Homo sapiens: one gene and its partner. The protein of the gene in region 2 interacts with the protein of the main gene of each other region in a pairwise test. Each region holds a gene or a part of one and is shown on either strand. Other genes may lie near its edges.

Region 1 (3,922 bases), on a different chromosome or scaffold from region 2:
TATTTTACAAAGTTCAACTCTTCATCAACATCTTTTTTTTTTCTTTGAGATGGAGTCTCGCTCTGTTGCCAGGCTGGAGTGTAGTGCTGTGATCTCAGTCCACTGCAACCTCCCCCTCCCAGGTTCAAGCGATTCTCCTGCCTCAGCCTCCCTAGTAGCTGGGACTACAGGAGCGTGCCACCATGTCCAGCAAATTTGTGTATTTTAAGTAGAGACGGAGTTTCACCATGTTGGCCAGGATGGTCTCGATCTCTTGACCTCGTGATCCACCTGCCTTGGCCTCCCAAAGTACTCGGATTACAGGGGTGAGCCACCGTGCCCGGCCCTAACACCTTGTCATTAAACATTCCCTGTCCACCATTAATCATCATTCACCCAGTCTCCTCTCCTCTCTCCCCACCCCTACCCCCACTCCATCCAGCCCCCTAACATTCTGGCCCCAGTTCACACAGCCCCCTGCACAAGCAGCAAACAGGGAGGATGAGCACCTCTGTCAGCTTTGGGACATCTGTGGACCTGCAGGCCTAGGATAAAGGCGCATGCAGGTTTGGTAGCACCTGTGAGTCAGGATGCTACCAACAGTGAGCCTTAGACCTGCTAAATTAGGTTTAGCCTAAAGCTGCCTTCTGACATATTTTAAGTTCAGCCTAAAGGTTTCTCCGTACATCGTGAACTATATGCTTCCGTTTTCTGGGAGTCGCTTTCCTTTTTCTGTCCATAAATCTTCTTCTACCACGTGGCAGCCCCAGAGTCTCTCTGAACCTATTCCGGTTCCCCATGCCCAACTGTGAATCGTTCTTTGCTCAATTAAACTCAGTTAAATGTAATTTGTCTAGGGTTTTCCTTTTAACAGATCTAAGTGCTTCTTTAATTAGAAACAAATATCCTGCTCTTCTCCACAACAGATTGTGTGAATCAAACCACAAAACGTGAGTCTGAAGGTTCAAGATCTTCATACAATCTCAAAACAGACTGGCTAGGCAAGACATTGAGCATGCACGGAGGCCTGGACTGGATCCTCAGCTGTGAGGCCTTCCTGCTTCTGGCTGTTTGTGTAACCTGAGCAGTCTACGGCTTGGCCCTATTTCCTGGTACAGGCATACTTGGAAATATAAAGAAATATGCATGCTTGGTAAGAAGTCTTGCACTCTTGCACTCGGACCCCTTTCCCCAGCTGACATTGTAGGTAAGATAATATGAATTGAGCAAATGTGACTCCCATGGAGTAAAAGCCCTCTATTTAACCAGGCAGTCGAGATATTGAATAATCCTAGTGGGAAGCTGTTTTAAAATTTAGAGCTAATTACTTAATCTAAAGCTAATATTTCTGAAGGAAGTTTTTTTCAATCTGATAATCATACCACCATAGGCAGTTTATTTAAGAAAACACATTAATTAAAACATCAACGTTCAAGAAATCACAACCAGGTTTAGAAGCAGGCACGTTTCCTTTGGAACACTTGTAATTAATATTCACACCACTTCCTGCAGGTTAGCAGGCTACTAACGCTCGTTTGAACGGGCTGTGGGTCGTAATCACAGATGATGCAGAATCGCTGAGCTCTGAGGCCCCACAGCGTTCCAGTTGGGAGAACTAATCTCTGGAATGTTCTCAGTCTCTGCTTGCCCCTGGGAAGGAGGGTAGCAGGCGGCATGGGTGACCCTGAGGCGACTGTGCTCTGAGGACCCAGAGCTACCTGCAAGGGCAAGTAGGAAACAAAACACCGGACCCATCTCCCTCCCTCCCTCTCTCTCCCGCAAGCCTTGTCACACACACACACACACGCACACACGCGCACACACACGAACTTCCCATGCCTCTTACTTTGCTGACAGGCCGAGAGAATAGAGACAGCAGCCAGCAGGATCGAGTTCCCGGCCATCTTTCTCACGGAACTATTTGTAGAGCGCACGGGAAGATAAATGGCGCTTCTTGACTTTGAATGCTGACCTTCCTTATCGGGTAAACAAAGTTGGGGACCGGGTGGGGGGAAAAGGCTGATTCAAGCGGCTGAATGACCTTTGCTCTGGAACAGAAGTCAGGAAGGCAGGCAGGTCTGGGGCTGCCGGTCACAGATCTTTATGGGGCTGGGAGTTGCTTCCGGCGTTTGTTTTAAGCCTCTCCCACGGCCAGCGGGCAGGGCTGTAGCTCACTGTGGGACCAGCCCTCCAGCCGCAGTGCCAGTTACACTATCTTCTCTGCCAATGCACAGACTCTCTGGATCCCTTTCATCCCCACGCCCTTCCCTCCTAGGGCCTTGCTGAGACCTTTCTCACCTCCTGTGGAAAAAGTGAGAAGGAACTACTTACTTAATCCTGTTGACATTTTAAATGCTAATTTAAGCCAGTTCTAATGTATTCACGCTCTGAATGGCCGATTTAGGATTTGAACCCAGTCTAGCAGATTACAACTGTGCCCTATCCCCTGCACCAGGCTGCCTCTCACTGTCACCTAGAGACTCTGATAATAATCATACTTTTTTTTTTTAAGACAGGGTCTTGATCTGTCACCCAGGCTGGAGTGTGTGGTGGCACGATCATAGCTCACTGCAGCCTCCAACTCTTGGGCTTAAGTAATCCTCCTGCCTCAGCCTCCCAAGTAGCTAGAACTACAGCCACAAGTCACTGTGCCCAGCCATTTTTAAAAAAATAAACCGGCCGGGCGCGATGGCTCACACTTGTAATCCCAGCACTTTAAGAGGCCAAGGAGGGTGAATCACGAGGTCAGGAGATCAAGACTATCCTGGCTAACACAGTAAAACCCCTTCTCTACTAAAAATACAAAAAATCAGCTGGGCATGGTGGCACGAACCTGTAGTCCCAGCTACGCAGGAGGCTGAGGCAGGAGAATCTGCTCTTTAGAGATGCAGATTCTGGCCTGGAAGGATGGCTCATGCCTGTAATCCCAACAGTTTGGGAGGCTGAAATGGGCAGATGGTTTGAGCTCAGGAGTTCGAGACCAGCCTGGGTAACATGGCAAAACCCCATCTCTTAAAGAAATACAAAAATTAGCAGGGCATGGTGGCACGTGCCTGTAGTCCCAGCTACTTAGGGGGCTGAGGCAAGGGGATTGCTTGAACCCAGGAGCCTGAGACTGCAGTGAGCCAAGGTCGTTCCACTGCACTTCAGCCTGGGTGACAAAGTGAGACCCTGTCTCAAACAAATAATAAAAATAAAGATGCAGCTTCCCAAAAACCAGAGCTGGGGGCCTTTCCTCACCCCATCCTACAGCACCATTAGAGGGTATATCTTGGCTCAAGCTGCTATAACAAAGATACCATAGACTGGGTGGCTTACAATAGCAATTTATTCGTCACAGTCCTGAAGGCTGGGAAGTCCAAGATGACAGTGCTGGCCAATCAGTTCCTGGTGAGGGCCCTCTTCCTGGTTTGCAGAAGGACACCTTCATGTTGGAGACAGAGAAAGAGTAAGCTTCCTGGTCACTTCTTATAAGGGCACAGATCCCATTATGGGGGCCTATGCTCATAACCTCACCTGTAGCTAATTATCTGCCAAATGCCTGATAACATCACGTTGGGGGTTAGGGTCTCAACATATGAATTGCAGAGGGGACACAAACATTTAGTCCCTAGCAGGGAGCTCCCAGTGTCTTCTGGGGAGGGCAGTTGCCTCAGCCTCACACAGACCCTACAATTTAATAACACAACCTTGGGCCTCTCTGAGCCTCCATTTAATAAGATAGGGCTAATAAGAGCTGAAGAGAAGTTTAAATGACATAATCCTATTCTAAGGATTGAATTAGTTAATACTTATAGAGCACTTAAAACAGCACCTGGCATATACAAATGTGTTCTGTGTGTCTGCAAAATAAACACATAAAGTATCTAGACAAGTACTTAGCATATAATGTACCTAATGTTAAAAAATACTTTCAGAGGCAAAAATCATGCCTTTCATACAA
Region 2 (3,922 bases):
AATTGTGACATCTAAGCTCATGGTCAGGAGTATGGATTATTTCATCTTCCTCCTCTTCCTTTACTTTTTTTCTGTTTGAAAATAGCCCCTTTACTTATCGTTAAACTCAATTCTAAATATTAACCACCTCATTGTGTTTCTTAAATCTAATTTTTAAGGCCCTCTATTTTTTTTTCTTCCTGGGCTAACAATTTTCCAAACCAACTTTATTTCACTTTTTTTTCTGAGCTGGTGCACCCTCTGGTGGAGTTTCTGATAAGAAATAACATGGCTAGGAAGCAGTTAGCTGGAGAAGTGCAGTAATCATGTAAGCTCCAAATCGCAGGCATCTTTGAGATCATTTATTGACCTTTAGGATTTTGCACAGTGTACCACTGAGACTTAAGGTGGAGAGAGGAAGAGGGGAATTCACTACGTAGTCAGAGAACTACACTGGAACATGTGTCTTTTGGCTCCATATGCTCCCCTCCTCGAATCATTATTTCCATTTCTCTCTTAAATTCAAGTTGTAAACAGAAACTTTTTGAGTTCCTAAAAAAGTAAGAGTATTCTAATTACTCAAATATTACTTCCAAGATATTCAGTATAGGAAAGGTTATATTTTTGAAAATGAAATTATTCCTCAGGGATTGGTCAAATTGGTATGATTATGGTAAAAAGAAAATCATCGGGGGGAAGTGAGAGCTGACTATAATGCGTAAGAAAGACATTTGGAATAAGAATTATCTAGAATTAATTGTTGAGGGAGATAATTTCTGTCCTTATCAGAACGATTTCCTTTTGTTACTTTGATGTCATGGAGATGATTTCTGTGCAATACGAATGGTTAGATGAGTTGATCTTTATTCTTCTTCTCTGTGCTGAGAATCTGTGGACCTTAGATTACACATTTATGAATTTGATAAATTCAGGAAGAAATATGCAGAGTTGCTTCATTGGTTTCTCTGTTACATCACTCAGCATTTTCTAGGGCAGACACTCTTCTAAAACCAGATGCGTAACTTCATGTGAAATAACGGACTCTCAAACTTACACCACTATACAGTAGGGTCATACTATTATAATTCTCCTTTTACAACTGAGAGAACTCAGTCACAGAGCCATTAAGTAACTTGCGCAAGTTAGCATAGCTGGAAGTGGTAGAAGTAGGTTTTCAACCCAAATGCTCTGTCTGCAGAGTTCATGTCTCTTATCACCATGTCGTGGTGCGACTGGGACAGTAATAGCCAGCTCTAACCTCATAGTACCATGTGGAGTATTGCCTGAATGAATCCAGTATCCCGTGTTCCAAATGCTTTAAGGAAATACTGAAAATTAAAAAAAAAAAAAATAGAAATGAGAGCCTGGTGAGGATCAGACAGAGAATAGGCCAATAGTGAGATCAGTTTGTAAACCGAATATAGTAAATACCGTATATAAAATTTGAATTGAACTGTAGATCTGACTTAAGCTTCCTAGCAGCTAGCATAATGAGAGAGAATATTGGTTATATAGTGTCCTCTAAAATTAACAAAATGAACAGCATTACTCACCAGATGTACAACTATTCCTGGCATCGAAACCAGAGAAAAATTCAAGCTATGAGGCCTCATAAAGAGAACACTGTTAACATAAGAACAATGTTTTCCATAGTATTCTCAGAATAAATTCAGTAACAAATTGCATGAATTTTTTTTTATTTTTAAAAAGTCATTCCTCAACATAGGCCAAAGTGCAATTCAGCTACAGTAATTTGAGGGATGGATGAGTCACAAATCATATTACCCAGAAACTGGTAGTAAATTGTATAGTATCTCAAAGAATGAATGGACTATGCATATCTCAGGTATTTCACCAGATGTATAATTGATTAAATGTTGGATATACAATATAACTTTGTGGTTGAAATTCTGGGCTCAGGAGTCTGTCCCAGGTCCAAGTCCAAGCTCTGCCTTTTAACTTGCTTTCCTACTCTTGAGTAAGATATTTCACTTTATCAAGCCAAGCAAGATGTGGTATATCATTAGAAAATCTATCAATGCAATTAATTTACAGAATCTTTTATATGTATAGTCATATTTATATTTCATAAATCAATCTATTTTTGTTCATTCATGCACATCAGTGTCCTTGGCTATTTATCAGAAGAGGACTAAGTCAGAAGTATGATAAGAGGGGCTCTGTCATGCTTTATTTCATAAAATAAATTACTTATAGCATTTAAATTTTATACAAAGACAGCACAGCAAAGCTTTGTTCATGTTAAAAATACAGTTAGAAAAGTAAAATAATTGGATTGGATCAGAAAAACGTACCCTGGTGTTGAAAACAAATTTAAATAGGGAATAATAAAATAGACCAGTGTTGTTGTTATTTGAGACGGAGTCTCGCTCTGTTACCCAGGCTGGAGTGCAGTGGTGCGATCTCGGCTCACTGCAACCGCCACCTCCCAGGTTCAAGCGATACTCCTGCCTCAGCCTCTTGAGTAGCTGGGATTACAGGTGCGTGCCACCATGCCCGGCTAATTTTTGTATTTTCAGTAGAGATGGGGTTTCACCATGTTGGCCAGGCTGGTCTCGAACTCCCCACCTCAGGTGATCCACCCACTTTGGCATCCCAAAGTGCTAGGATTACAGGGTTAGCCACTGCGCCCGGTCGACCAGTTTTGTTTGTTTGTTTGTTTTAATGGAAAATATATGCAAATTGTTTCGCACAATTCTTGGAACATAGAAGTTGATTAATACATATGTTTTTATTTCTAGCTAATCAGCACCTCCTCCACCATGGCCTCTACCTAGGCGATCCATGTTTCATGTTTTTACTTTGATGCTCCCTTGCATTCCAATCCAAGTCTCCCTTTTCTGTGTCCATTTTGCATGTGAACTTTGGACAAGCTACTGTCCTTTTGTGTTTCTCATTTTTTAAAAGACATTTGGAGTAGGCCATCTTTACGGTCCTTTTCACTGTAATCTGCCATGTTTGTGTGTTACTCTCTTATAGCAGTGCTGGTAAATGGATGAATATGGTCTCTTGGCTGGGTAGTGTATTTTATCAGGAGATAATGTCTCAGATCAAAGAAGTGATTTGAAACTGAAATCTCTTGTATAAATATAGTTAGAGAAAGAGGATTTTTCTTGGAGGGGACTTTTTACTCCCTCAGAAAACAGCATGACTTTCCTTACAGATTCATTCCGCTGACACTGTCTTGCGATAACAAAAGATTTGAGATATTGTGCACGTCTTCAATACATTTACTTACCTTATATGACCACCCTACATTCCCAGCCACTCTCTTTTTTGTGTTTATTTTCTGCCAATTTACATTTCATTTGAGGGTTAATTTTTTTTTGTTTTTACTCAAAAGCAATTGTATTGAATAATGATAACCATTACAGACACTTAGTTGCAAAATGATGTAGCCAGAGAATGTGATGCCTAAGTACCAGTTGAAGCCCTACTACTCATTTACTATTTCTCTTAGGTTTCAATCCCTTCACCTAAAAGGGAGAGCGGTAGCCTCAGCTACCGCTAAAGTCAGCATAAAAACTTTCTTAATACCGTATGTTTCTGTCACGTTGATTAGAGTTAGATTCAACATTTAAGATCCTTTCCAATTCTGAACTTCTTTATTTTGTTAGTCTGGGTCAAAGGCAGAAGATGAGGAGATAAGATAAGGGCAGCCAGGAAATCCTGAGTCAGATAAGCATGCAAACAATCAAATACTCTGTTACATCACAAACAGCATAAGACAGAGTGAAAAAGCAGTTCCAAAATTAACGTAAAGAAATAGCAATCGAGAGCCATGCAAAAGCTGAAAGAGCAGCACAAATTTAATAAGCAGATTGTTAACAATAAGAAGATCCACCAGAAGCAGGTGAATGGTCCCAATTTCTGCTGTGAAATACAGTCATAGCCTCCTGCTATACAGAGAGCATGGCTTTGA

Evidence for each region.
Region 1: the proteins of TMEM207 (region 2) and MGST2 interact in binary tests that used the Homo sapiens proteins (3 or more experiments, as listed by UniProt).

The regions. Positions count from the first base shown.
Region 1 is NC_000004.12:139,663,981-139,667,902, reverse strand, and holds the start of MGST2 (microsomal glutathione S-transferase 2), read right to left. Parts: upstream 2,085-3,922; 5' UTR 1,884-2,084; coding exon 1,826-1,883; intron 1-1,825. UniProt on the Homo sapiens protein: Catalyzes several different glutathione-dependent reactions. Catalyzes the glutathione-dependent reduction of lipid hydroperoxides, such as 5-HPETE.
Region 2 is NC_000003.12:190,443,189-190,447,110, forward strand, and holds part of TMEM207 (transmembrane protein 207 precursor), read right to left. Parts: intron 1-3,922.